4 linked regions of the Homo sapiens genome follow. The protein of the gene in region 4 purifies or fractionates together with the protein of the main gene of each other region. This does not show direct contact. Each region holds a gene or a part of one and is shown on either strand. Other genes may lie near its edges.

Region 1 (3,618 bases), on a different chromosome or scaffold from region 4:
TTTCTTCTTTCTTTCTTTTTTTTTTTTTTTTTTTTTTTTTTTTTGAGTGAGTCAAACTCTGTTGCCCAGGCTGGAGTTACAGTGGCGCGATCTCGGCTCACTGCAACCCTCAACCTTCCAGGTTCAAGCAATTCTCCTGCCTCAGCCTCCCAAGTGGCTGGGATTACAGGCATCTGCCACCATGCCCGGCTAATTTTTGTATTTTTAGTAGAAATGGGTTTTCACCATATTGTCCAGGCTGGTCTTGAACTCCTGACCTAAGGTGATCTGCCTGCCTCGGCCTTCCAAAGTGCTGGGATTACAGGCGTGAGCCACGACGCCCGCCCGGCCAGAAAAGTAACTTTTGTAGGCGATGGGGTGGCAATGAGGTTGGAGGGAAGGAGACTACTTTAGTGACCCAGGCAGGGATAGTGAGAGCCCCAACCAGATGTTTCTGTGTCGAGTCATTACCTGTCCTCTGGCTGCCTGAGGCCCAACACTTTGTACAGTCTCTAAAGTAATCAAGACTGCTCCATGGTAACTTTCTTTTGATAATTCTTTTATGCTCAAGAGTGGGCTGAGTTAATGCAAGACATTTTAGAGATGTCGTATGCCTTGTGATTTTCTTTTTTTCTTTTTTTTTTTTTGAGACGGAGTCTCGCTCTGTCGCCCAGGCTGGAGTACAGTGGTGTGATCTCGACTCGCTGCAAGCTCCTCCTCCCGGGTTCATGTCATTCTCCTGCCTCAGCCTCCTGCGCAGCTGGGACTACAGGCGCCTGCCACCACGCCCGGCTAATTTTTTGTATTTTTAGTAGAGATGGGGTTTCACCGTGTTAGCCAGGATGGTCTCGATCTCCTGACCTCGTGATCCACTCACCTCGGCCTCCCAAAGTGTTGGTATTACAGGTGTGAGCCACCGCGCCCGGCAGATTTTCTTTCTCTCTAAAGGAAAAGGCGGCCAGGCACAGCGCCTCACACCTGTAATCCCACTGCTTTGGGAGGCCAAGGCTGGAGGATCGCTTGAGGCCAGGAGTTAGACCAGCCTGGGTAACATAGCGAGATCTCATCTGTAATTCTTATTAAAGAAAAAAGAAAAAAGTATCTATCCATGTATATATGTACAAATATTTGTATACCTGTCTCTCTATACTGATAGAATGTGGTTCCTTAAAAGGGGGAATTATTATTTATAACAATATGCACACCACTGAAAGATCTTTAAATCATTCTTTTAAAAGCTAATTGTAGAGTACAGTGAAATAGTGGGAAATATGTAGTTCAATGCAAATTTATTCATTTGCAAATCCGTAGCTCAATTTTACAAAGGATGTAAGAGGAAAAACTATTGTTTATCTAATGTGTCCTTTTTAAGAGTGCTGTGGTGCTACCTGATTGTTTCGTGTCTAAGACTTGACTGTCATAATCCCACTGTAATAGACGATGTGCCTACCTGTGGTTGACACACATTCTTGGCATTAGTAAAAATGAAATTGGTCTCAAAAGAGTGAATCTAAATGGACAGAGACTGACTCTCACTATCAGTGATACCATTTAATACCTGTGAGTACAGACTGAGACTACAAGAATTAACTAAACCTTCAGACTAATTTTGAGATAAAATGTATTTTTTGAGTACATAAATTGTCATTTTTCAAATGATATGCTCATCTATTTATTAATTCACTTTTGTAAGAAGACCTGAAAATGGTAGGTCTCTTCCTCATTAGCTTTGCTCCTAGCCAGATGTTGAACGTCCCTTCTTTTGTTCTCTGAAGTGTTTCACTGGGCAGCATTAATTCTTTATGAGGAGAGATGCTTCACAGAGATAACCTATCTTGTATCTTTCCTGCCATGTCAAGTCATGTAATACAGACATCTCCATCCTGGAGACTGGGTATCCAGGCATTATGGTAACTCTGAGACTCAGAAGACAAACGCTTGAGAAAGGGCTAGTATTTCCTTTCTGCGATAGTAGTTTTTTTTTTTTTTTTTTTTTTTCTGAAAGGCTCTTCTATGGCTTTCAAGATGATTGGTGAAAATGGAAATATATTTGTATTTATGTTTGTTTTTCAAGATGATTGGTGAAAACGGAAATATATTTGTATTTATGTTTGCTCTTCAGACTAATGTTCTCTGTGTTCACAGAGATACATTGCAGTTCTCCTTGGGTGTCTGATGCAAGTTCCATTCATGGTTGATTTTGATGTTTCATTCACTATTTGCTAGATTCCTTTTGCAGCAAGTAGTGAGTGAGGAAGTTTCCATGTGTCCACCCATCACTCTGCCTGGTTGTGGCTTCCTTCTTTCTCCTAGCATGAGGTAGTAAGAAAGAAAATAAAAGCATTATAAGAATCACATGATTTTTAAGTAAAGAGCCATTGAGGAGCAGAATAAAAAATCTTGGGATATGCCCTGAGCCCTAGTTACTCACCGCTTTTTTTTTTTTTTTTTTTAACTGCCCTTAATCTAGTAGGACCTAGTTTCCTTTAAAATGTATCCTAAGCACCCTTGACTTTGTTGACTTTAATAATAATTTTGTATTGGTCTTGCTGTCAGCCAACAATTGTTTTTAACCTAGAGCTAAAACATGTTTATGTGTGTGTGTGCTTTAAAAATTTAGTGTTTCAACATTAAATTATTTGTAGAGGAAAGGAATACTCTAGTTCAAGAATATGTATCTTTGCTATAGGAGTTTGTCTTTGTCTGTTTTCATAGGATTTTAAGGACCTCCTTTGTGAAATAAACCATTAACAACTTTGTAGCATTCCTTGTTTGGAAATGCCCAGTCTTTTAAAAAAAAAGTTTTGAAAGAGAAGAGTAACAACCTTAATCTGTGAGTTAAAACATTTAGAAACAAACAAACAAAAGTTAATTGAACATCTCTTAGAAAACTGATAGGTAGAATAGTAAAGTAGTTAAGAGCAAAGGAACTATTTTAGGTTGTTTGAGTTCAAATTGTGGCTTTAACCCTTACCGGACATGTGACCTGGGTGAGTTATTTAATTATTCTGTACCTCAGTTTCCTTATCTGTAAAATGAGGTTAACAGTCACCAACATCATTGGGTTCTCATGAGGATTATTTAAATAATGAGAACAAAGGCCAGGCTTGGTGGCTCACGCCTGTAATCCCAGCATTTTGGGAGGCCAAGGCGGTGGATCACCTAAAGTCAGGAGTTCAAGACCACCCTGGCCAACATAGTGAAACCCCATCTCTACCAAAAATACAAAAATTAGCCAGGCATAGTGGCAGGCGCCTGTAGTCCCAGCTACTTAAGAGGCTGAGGCAGGAGGATTGCTTGAACCCAGGAGGTGGAGGTTGCAGTGAGCCAAGATCACACCACCGTACTCCAGCCTGGGAGACAGAGTGAGACTCCTTCTTATAAATAAATAAATAAATAAATAAATAAATAAATAAATAAATAAATAGAACTGTGCATGACATACGATGAGCAGTTCATAAATGTGAGTTATTGGCTGGGTACGGTGGCTCATGCCTGTAATTCCAGCACTTTGGGAGGCCGAGGCAGGTGGATCACCTGTCAGGAGTTCAAGACCGGCCTGGCCAACATGGCGAAACCCCACCTCCACTAAAAATACAAAAATTAGCCAGGTGTGGTAGTGGGCACTTGTAATCCCAG
Region 2 (2,838 bases), on a different chromosome or scaffold from region 4:
TGGAAAGCACAGAAAGAGCTGAAAGCAGCCTCCGGTGGCTTCATTTTGTAGATGAGTCCGTTTTGTAATTCTGCAGAAAGGGGGGGATATGAACTTCGCACTGCAGTGTCTTCTTGCTCCATCCTAGGTCTGTCTATATCTCTATCTGGCTATGATCCTTTCTAGGGTTGATGAATACCCTTTACTGAGTCAACTATTGCTTTAAAGAATTTTTTTTGTAGGTTTATGTACTCATTTTAGTTAGCATCTACCTCTCTGGGAAAATGAAAGGAGGGTTGACTTAGGGATGAGTATAGATGTTGAAAGACAACTATCAAACCATGTGGTTTGAATTTTTAAAATTGTAAAACATTGGTGTCCAAACCTCCCACCCCACTTGTATGTAAAGGACAGTGAGTGTTGTATAAATAGTAAACTATAAGAAGCATGAATTTTCATCTTTATTAATGATCTTGAAATAAGGAAGAGAATGCTTAATATGTTAAGTAGAGCCAAGAATGCTACTAAGAAGCATTGTCTTTGGAAAAATTTTGTATAATGACTTGGGGCATAAGTTGTGATGAAAAGGCAACTTGGTTTTTGGTTCCAGTCATACTTAATGATCAGAAAGCTCTAAGATGTTTTCTTTAAAAATAGAATTAAGTTTAATTTTTTGCATGGCTTACAGATTGGGTCCCTTGAAGGTTAAACCATGTGATGGTATAACCTGTGAGATCTTCTAGATTGGCACTGTTCAATAGGGCTTTCTGTGATGATGGAAATGCTCGAAAACCTGTGCCGTCTGGTACGGTAGCCACCAGGCACATTGACTTTTAGGCAGTTAAAATGGGGTTACTACAAGGGAAGAACTGGATTTCAAATTTTATTTAATTTTAATTAGCTTAAATTTAAATAGCCCTATGTGTCTAGTGGCTGCCATATTGAACGATGCAGTTCTGGGTGATAGCGCTTGGGGATCCAGCATCAAGGTATTAATGGAGTAACAGTGAGGCTAAGGTGAGAGTTTGTGGGCTAGTGACATGCAGTTGGCAAAAGGCAAAACATTCCTTTCTGGGCTTAAAAAGTATGTGATCTCAAGTATGACAGTAAAAATTCATTGTTGCCCTTTGGAACTGTTGCTTATAGATTTTAGGCCAAGGAATGATCAGTGAAGCTTAAAGAATGCTTTATTAAGCCCCTTTTCTGGGATCATTAGCTGCATGTTAACCTATTGTCCAAAAATAGTAGTTAGACAGTACCTGTAAAACGTTTGACTTGCAAGCTATGCATGATCTGTACTGTGAAATTGTGTCTAGGGTCTTGTGGCCAAAAAGTAAATGTTACAGGAAAAAAAAAGCCTAATGAAATCCCTGTTCACTTCCAGTATCCTATCCAAACTTCATTGCTGTATTAGTAAGGTGCAAATATAAGAGCAAGCATGTTTTGCAGTGTTCAGACTGGTTTTGTTTGCCCTTGAAGTTGGCCAGCTTGTCGTTGTATTTGGTGTGGGCATATGTGGGCATCATTTTTCAGATGCCAAACTAAAATGTAGGTAGTATTTTTAGAATGAGATTTGACATTGTTTTAGTGTCTTTCTTTTTTAAGCAAAAATTTCAGTTATCCCTGAAAGAGTTGAAGATTTGAAGCTTTGCACAAAAGCACTTTTTTTAACAGTAAAAAATACTGCCCATGAAATTTAAAGACTTGAAGTTTACTAAAGCTACAATAATTACTTTTTAGCTAAATAAAAGGAAGCAGAAAATTCAGTTTGAGATATATTTCCTATAAAGACCAGATTCTTACTGATAATCTGGTATTTATTCCAGTCTAGATTTTGATTTTAAGAGTTCCCATCCCTTTATTTGAAAACTTATGTTGTTTCAAAATTGGTTAGTCTGCTTTTCATTGTTTTCCAAATGGAATATATACAAAATACATTTACTTCATTTTAGCAGAAATGGGTTGATTTTTTTTTTCTAGAACTCATCAATGTGCAAGACTTTCCTTCTTAGCTTGCCTTTAAAAATCATTTAATTTTTTTTTTTTTGCCAAGATACTAATCTTTCTTTAGCCTTAATAGGAAGATAGAAGTTCAAAAGTTATCGGTGCAAAAGGAGTGATACACAAAAGACTTCAATTTCTATCTTTTCTCAGAAAAGTGATGCTGCCCACCAGTCAGCATTTTGTTTCCACATAAGAAGTGTCAGGTAGTCAGTCTGTCATCCCTGACTTAGATAGAGAAGCTGTTCCTTGACATTTCCATCATTCTCAGTAAATTGTCACCTACAAGGTAATTCTTACCAAAACAGAAACTATTGAGAATAATAAGATAGTCGAGATAATTCAGTAGCTGTTTTGAAAGTAGTAGTCTATTTAAAAAGCAACGATGTTCAGTTGCTGGATTTTGTTCAACATGAGACACTTATTTATTTATTTATTTATTTATGAGATGGAGTTTTGCTCTTGGTGCCCAGGCCAGAGTGCAATGGCATGATCTCAGCTCACTGCAACCTCCGCCTCCCAGGTTCAAGCTATTCTCCTGCCTCAGCCTCCTGAGTAGCTGGGATTATAGGCATGCGCCTCCATGCCCAGCTAATTTTGTATTTTTTAAAGTAGAGACGGGGTTTCTCCATGTTGGTCAGGCTGGTCTCCAACTTCTGACTTCAGGCGATCCACCCGCCTCGGCCTCCCAAAGTGCTGGGATTACAGGCATGGGCCACTGCACCCAGCCAACATGAAACACTTCTAAAAGATAAGTGGAAATTCAAGCCATTGATTTTTCTGACACAACTGACTTACTACACACACACACACACACACACCACGATTTAGCTGTAATTGGAGTTAAAATTCAGTAAA
Region 3 (3,618 bases), on a different chromosome or scaffold from region 4:
AAGACCTACTATCCTTAATAAAGCATTTAAACATCCCTAAGCAGCTTCTTAGGCTATGAAATCTCTTACTGGATATTTAAACTATAATAGCTATAGGTACCAAAAGCCTTATGATTATACATTGAGCTAGCAATTCTACATGTTCATCCTGACAGAATCATCACAGTGTTTTTGTCTTTTGTTTTGTTTTGTTTTTGAGATGGAGTCTCGCTCTGTAGCCCAGGCTGGAGTGCAGTGGCGCGATCCACAGCGTTTTTTTAATGGCAAGGATGGAAACAACCTAAATGTCCAACAGATGGGGCCTGAATAAATAAATTACAGAAGAGCCATGCAGTGGAATACTATGCAAGCATCTAAAGGAATGTTCTAGGCCGGGCACAGTGGCTCACACCTGTAATCCCAGCACTTTGGGAGGCTGAGGCAGACAGATCACTTGAGGTCAGGAGTTCAAGACCAGCCTGGCCAACATGACGAAACCCCATCTCTACTAAAAATACAAAAATTAGCCAGGTGTGGTGGCACATGTCTGTAATGCCAGCTACTCAAGAGGCTGAGGCTGAAGAATTGCTTGAACCCAGAAGGTGGAGGTTGCAGTAACTGGAGATTGCGCCACTGCACTACAGCCTGGGCAACAGAGCGAGACTCCATCTCAATAATAATAATAAATAAAGTTCTAGAAACATATGTGCTGACACAAGAGGATCTTCACATTAGAGTGTTACATTAAAGGAGCAAGATATAAAGGGTTATGAAAATTTTAAGATAGACGTCCCAAATATGTGATTCATTGGGAAGATAAAGCAGGTTACGAAACGGTATAATTATATAATTATACCATCCTGTTTTTTTTTTTTTAAATGTACATGTACCTGAATCTGCATGGCTACATTCTAAATGGATGTACTTTAAAATGTTATCAGTGTAAGCTGTGGGTTGTGGGATTCTAGGTGATTTTATTTTCTTATCTCTATGATTTTTAAGCCCATCATATAATTGTTTTGAATAGATAAACACTTACTTATATGGTTGAAAAATTAAGACAGTATTAATGTTTACCATGACAAGTCTCACCCTACCCCAACCCTGACTCACTCCCTCTTTCTATAAATAATGACTTTTAGTGTCTTGTCATCCCAGTGTTTATTTTACTAATTTATTTATTTATTTAATTTTTGAAATGGAGTCTCCCTATGCTGCCCAGGCTGGTCTGGAACCCCTGGCCTCAAGTAATCCTCCCACTTCAGCCTCTTAAGGTGCTGGGACTACAGGTGCACACTACCACACCCAGCCTCTTCCCAATGTTTCTTTATCAAATACAAGCAAATGTAAATATATATTCTTATTTCTCCGTTTTCTTATGCAAAGTTATCCCATGTACACCACTGTGCACCTTGCTTTTTTCACCATTTGGTAATTTTTTTAAACAAAGGCTTAACAATCCTGGTAATGGATTTCTGTGCTCACAGCTTTCTCTCCTCTGCTCACAGATCCTGTTGCACCACGCAGCAAACTCTGTGAAAAGGGTCTCTATGGAGCTGGGCGGCCTTGCTCCATTTATAGTATTTGACAGTGCCAACGTGGACCAGGCTGTAGCAGGGGCCATGGCATCTAAATTTAGGAACACTGGACAGGTGAGTCCTGGAGAGTATTTCAGGATGTGTGTTTGCGTGTGCATGTGTGAGTGTGTGTATGTGTGTGTGTGTGATATGTGTGCATGTGAGTGTGTGTGTGTGTGCGTGTGTGTGTGTTACAAAGATCCCACCACCTCTACTGCCTTATATCCCATAAGGAAACTTTTGGGTTCCTTCCATTATTCATTCTTTATTCATTGACTCTTTCAGCAAATATTTAGTATATGCCTTACTTTTTATTACCAGGGTTATACTAGGCTCAGAGGGGCCCCCCCAAAATAAGGTACAGTCCCTGGCTTCAAATAATTTTCTGAACAGCAGATGTCCTTTAGTCAAATTGTTCTCTGTTTTCTTCTTTCCCCTATCCTTTTAATCTGGTTATTTTTATAGTTTTCTTTCATTGATCTTTTTTCTACTGAACGGATATAATCTCCTCAGACACAGAACAGCCTTGAACAATTGGGGTCTCTGAGGCCAAGGGAAAGAAAGTAAGAAAATGTTGAGGAGGGTGGTGGCTGGAATAACTCAAAACCCTGTTGCCTGCTATGACCCAGTGGGGCCTCGCTGTCCCGAGATGGAGGGAGCCTCAGAGGTGCCCTCTACAGGGCACAGGCCCACGCCAGCAGTGTTTTAGAGGAGCATCCAGGCTGTCCTGGGAGACCAGAGGCCTGAGCTCATGTCTTCCTAGGAAATCCTGGAATATTTGATCTGTCAGGGACCTTCACAGTTATCAGCTCTACAAACGTTGCATTTTAGAGATGAGGAAATGAAACTCTAGAAAGAAAAAGTGACTTAGAGATCAGACGTCTTTGGGCCACAGTGTCAAATCTGCTGAGGAGCTGGGACTCTGAGCCAAGGCTCCTGTCTTCCAGTTCTATCCAAGCTGCTGCCAGGGTCCTGCCTTCTTAAATATTCTTAAGCATTCATCTTAAAAGTACCATCAATATGTAATTTTAAATGCATTCTAGAAACAGAGTAAATATCCCTGAAAGGTTATATTGTGAAAAAACTGAAATGTGTGATATTCTCTATCAAATAATTTTCATCCTTGCCTTGGCCTTTGGTAATTAAGTTTTTCCCTTCCACATAACCTAAATAAGCTTGGTTTTGTCTGAAATAAGTATATTTTCCTTCATAAATACAAAATGTCAATATATGTTACCATCAATTACACTGTAAGGCTACAACTTGGGGACAGGTATGGTGGCTCAGAACTGTAATCCCAGCATTTTGGGAGGCCAAAGCAGGAGGATCACTTGAGCCCAGGAGTTGGAGACCAGCCTGGGCAACAGAGTGAGACTCTGTCTCTACAATTTTTTTTTTTTTTTTTTTTTTTTTGTGTGACAGAGTCTCACTCTGTTGCCCAGGCTGAAGTGTAGTGGCATGATGTCAGCTCACTGCAACCTCCACCTCCCGGATTCAAGAGATTCTCCTGCCTCAGCCTCCTGAGTAGCTGGGACTACAGCTAATTTTTCTATTTTTAGTAGAGATGGGTTTCACTATGTTGGCCAGGCTAGTCTCGAACTCCTGACCTTAGGTGATCCACCCACCTCAGCCTCCCAAAGTGCTGGGGTTACAGGCATGAGCCACTGCGCCCAGCCAAAAAAAATTAAAAATTAGCTGGGCATGGTGGCAAGTGCCTATAGTCCCACCTACTTGGGAGGCTGAGGTGGAAGAATCACTTGAGCCCTGGAGGTCAAGGCTGCAGTGAACTCATCACTACTGCACTCCAGCCTGGGCGACAGAGCGAGACCCTGTGTCAGCAAAACAAAAGACTATAAGTTGGTGTTGGACCACATTCCTCTTAGCCTCTGCTGTTGCTGCAGCATCACAGTCTCCTAGGAGAATTGCACTCTTTCCCCACCCCCCAGGGAAACAAAATAAAAGCCATTTGAAAAAAACATGGATTGGGTGGCTTTTTTTTCTTTTCTTTCGTGTGTGTGTGTGTGTGTGTGTGTGTACAGGTGCTTATTGCCAACTAATCACT
Region 4 (3,618 bases):
ACGGAATCTCGCTCTGTTGCCCAGGCTGGAATGCAGTGGTGCGATCTTGGCTCACTGCAAGCTCCGCCTCCCAGGTTCACGCCATTCTCCCGCCTCAGCCTCCAGAGTAGCTGGGACTACAGGCGACCGTCACCATGCCCGGCTAATTTTGTTTTTGTATTTTTAGTAGAGACGGGGTTTCACCACGTTAGCCAGGATGGTTTAGATCTGACGTCGTGATCTGCCTGCCTCGGCTGGGAATACAGGCGTGAGTCACTGCGCCCGGCCTATTATTACAATTTTTTAATAAGTGCCAGTCTCTGGATCTTACTAGCAGAATGAACTTGGCCAAGTTTTTTAACTTTCTATTCGTTAATTTTCTCATCTATAAAATGGGACAATAGTACTTACTTAAGTTATTGTGAGGATTAAATAAAACAGATAAATCACTTGCCACACTGCCTCGTTTATAGTATAAATTCAGCAAACGTTAACTACTCATGTTTAAAATGTGCCAGTTTGGTGGAAAATGGGACACTTACTGTTTTAATTTGCACTTCTTCAAATATTTATGAGACTAGAAGAAATTGATATAATGAACTGCTAGAATTGTGGATCATTTTGAATGAACAAAATGAATAAGCACTTAAATAATAAAACACTTATCATGTGCCAGATACGTTTCTAGGCTGTCATGTTTACATTTGCTCATTTAATTGTCTCAGCATCCATATTACATACTGTTTTCTGCATTTAGCAGATAAAGGAGCTGAGGCTCAGTAAGGCTGTTAACTTGCGGTAGGTCACATATCCAGGAGGGGGCAGAACTAGACTTTAAATTTAGGATGTATAACTCTGAGCCCTGTTTTCTTTCGTCTTACCACAGATGCTGCCACTTTATTAGATTGTAGGTCTCTTTAGTTTTATTACTCTCAAGTATATAAAGACACTCAAATTAGGTTATAAATAATCCAGTGTGATTAAAGATCAAAAACATGTAAATTAGATGTGATTCAAGATCATGTCTGTAAATCAGTGCTTTGAGTGTGTTAGAAAATTCTTGACAGTATTAGCATAAAAATTCAACGGACTTCTTGAAATCTTATTTGTGCCATCATTGAAAATTGGGCTAAAGAAAGTGAGCATCAGCCTAGTCCTTAACCAAACTTATCACAAGTTCCAAAAATCTGAATTATTTAGCTTTTACTGTAAAATAGAAAGAGGTTTGGCCAGCTGTAGTGGCTCACACCTGTAATCCCAATACTTTGGGAGGCCAAAGTGGTAGGAGCACTTGAGGCCAGCAGTTTGAGACCAGTCTGGGAAACACAGTGAGACCTCATCTTTACAAAAAAATTTAAAAAGTAGCTGAGTGTGGTGTACACCAGTAGTCCAAGCTACTTGGGAGGATGAGTTAGGAGGATCACTTGAGTCCAGATGGTCGAGGCCGCAGTGAGCTATGATTACACCACTGCACTCCAGCCTGGGCAACAGAGTTAGACCCTGTCTCAAAAAAAAGAAAAAGAGGTTTTACTTCTAATGTTGATTAATACTGGCTGAAAAGAGAAGTATTTGCAGAAAATTATAAACAGTTACAATAAACATATATAAACATAAACATCAAGTTAGAAATAATATATAACATACTATTTTTTTGCTCTTTTTTTCTATTAAAACTTTGAATAACTTCCAACCTATAGCTGAATATATATTTATTATAATAATTTTGCATGAAAAATTATTTGTCACAGGTGTCAACATGAAAACTTAGTAGAACTACTTGGTTTCTCAAGTGATGGAGATGACCTCTGCTTAGTATATGTTTACATGCCTAATGGTTCATTGCTAGACAGACTCTCTTGCTTGGTAAGCTATTTGTTCATCAGATTGTTTGGCTTTTTGTTTATATGCTGGAATATTAATATTCATTTTGTTACTGGATTATTTAAACCAAATTCACTTTCATATTTTTCCTGCTCTATGAAAATTATACAGTTGATATGTCAACAAATTATACAGTTGATATGTCAACAACTGGGTTGCCATTTTATTAGGTGGTAATCTTAAATGTAGAATTCAGTTAAGACTATACTAGGAAGATGCTTTTATATATTTTTATCTTCAAATAACAAATGTAAACACCCATTTGAGCTTATTTAGATATTATTTTTAATAACTTAAAAATGTAGTCCTAAATTATTAATGCTATAACATCATCTTCAGTTGTTGCCTAGAAAAATATTCTGTGTTATATATTCTCTGTAGATTTTTTATTATTCTTTCTCATTTTTAATTTGGTTTATTTCTTTATAAGGATGGTACTCCACCACTTTCTTGGCACATGAGATGCAAGATTGCTCAGGGTGCAGCTAATGGCATCAATTTTCTACATGAAAATCATCATATTCATAGAGATATTAAAAGGTAAATGCTACTGTTTAAAAGTTTTTGGAAAGCTGTCTTTAAAGAATAATTTGCTGTCACTCTATTCACGATTCATATGCAGGTCTTAACCTAGAGCATCTGGACTTTTTTCCCATCACTCCATGAAAGCTCTTCTCAATAAGGACATCTATAATCTCCTTTATTCCAAGCCCAGTGACCTACTTCCAGTACTCATCCTACTTGACCTTTTTTGTTTGTTTTAATAGTAGTTTATTCTGTTCTTCTTGACACTTTTGCCTTATGGAAATTAGTTGTTTTCTTAGTTTATGGATCACTATTCTTTTCTGAATCACCTTCATCCTCCATGAGTACTTTTCAGTTCTCTTTCTTTCTTGTGTATTTATCTAGTTAAATATTTACCTACTATAAGTAACATATTCATATATAGAGCTCAACATCAATCAAATAAGCACAAAATAATTATAGAATGTTAATATGTACAGTTCACATATATATTATATGTATTATTATTATATAGTATAGTACATAGGATTAATATAAAGAAGGGTTTCCAAGAAAGTGACATTTAAGCAGAGATTCAAAGAATGGGCAGGAAATAAGTAGACACAATTTGAGGGTAACTGTAGAATGGATGATGGGGAGAAGAACATTCTAGGCAGAAGGAACTGCATTTGTAAGACCAGTGGTGAGACAGAATATGGGAGCATGATGAGTTACAAGAAATGAAATATGCTTTGGGAGCCAAGATAGGAGGATCATTTGAGGCCAGGAGTAGCAGACCTGACTATGTTCCCTGAACAACATAGCAAGACCTCATCTCTACAAAAAAACTAGTCAAACGTGGTATTGCATGCCTACAGTTCCAGACACTAGGGCAGCTGAGGAGGGAGGAGGCTTGAGCCCAGGAGTTCAAGGTTGAAGTGAGCTATGATCGTGCCAGTGCTCCCCAGCCTGGGTAATAAAGTAAGACTCTGTCTAAAAAAAAATGAAGTAAATGCAGTATGACTGAGATGCAGAAAGTTATAGGGTGGTGGATTGGAGATAAAACTACAGAGAAGTGTAGGAAGCTAAGTCCTATAGGACTTAATAGATCAAGGTAAGGCTTTTAGTTTTATCACAAGTGTAATGAGATGCCGTTGAAAATTTTAAGTAGGAATATGGCATCATATTTAAGTTTTGCAAAGATGATTTTAACTCTAGTGTAGAGAACAGTTTGTAAGAAGAGGCAGTTAGTAG

What was found.
Region 1: the proteins of IRAK4 (region 4) and SASH1 purify together in Homo sapiens (affinity purification with western blotting, with the first as the bait; one study listed by BioGRID). This does not show direct contact.
Region 2: the proteins of IRAK4 (region 4) and RNF152 purify together in Homo sapiens (affinity purification with western blotting, with the first as the bait; one study listed by BioGRID). This does not show direct contact.
Region 3: the proteins of IRAK4 (region 4) and ALDH5A1 purify together in Homo sapiens (affinity purification with mass spectrometry; one large-scale study listed by BioGRID and IntAct). This does not show direct contact.

What each region holds. Positions count from the first base shown.
Region 1 is NC_000006.12:148,349,238-148,352,855, forward strand, and holds part of SASH1 (SAM and SH3 domain-containing protein 1), read left to right. Parts: intron 1-3,618. UniProt on the Homo sapiens protein: Is a positive regulator of NF-kappa-B signaling downstream of TLR4 activation. It acts as a scaffold molecule to assemble a molecular complex that includes TRAF6, MAP3K7, CHUK and IKBKB, thereby facilitating NF-kappa-B signaling activation.
Region 2 is NC_000018.10:61,810,236-61,813,073, reverse strand, and holds part of RNF152 (E3 ubiquitin-protein ligase RNF152), read left to right. Parts: 3' UTR 1-2,838. UniProt on the Homo sapiens protein: E3 ubiquitin-protein ligase that acts as a negative regulator of mTORC1 signaling by mediating ubiquitination of RagA/RRAGA and RHEB.
Region 3 is NC_000006.12:24,518,914-24,522,531, forward strand, and holds part of ALDH5A1 (succinate-semialdehyde dehydrogenase, mitochondrial isoform 2 precursor), read left to right. Parts: intron 1-1,487; coding exon 1,488-1,631; intron 1,632-3,618. UniProt on the Homo sapiens protein: Catalyzes one step in the degradation of the inhibitory neurotransmitter gamma-aminobutyric acid (GABA).
Region 4 is NC_000012.12:43,775,903-43,779,520, forward strand, and holds part of IRAK4 (interleukin-1 receptor-associated kinase 4), read left to right. Parts: intron 1-1,727; coding exon 1,728-1,842; intron 1,843-2,290; coding exon 2,291-2,400; intron 2,401-3,618.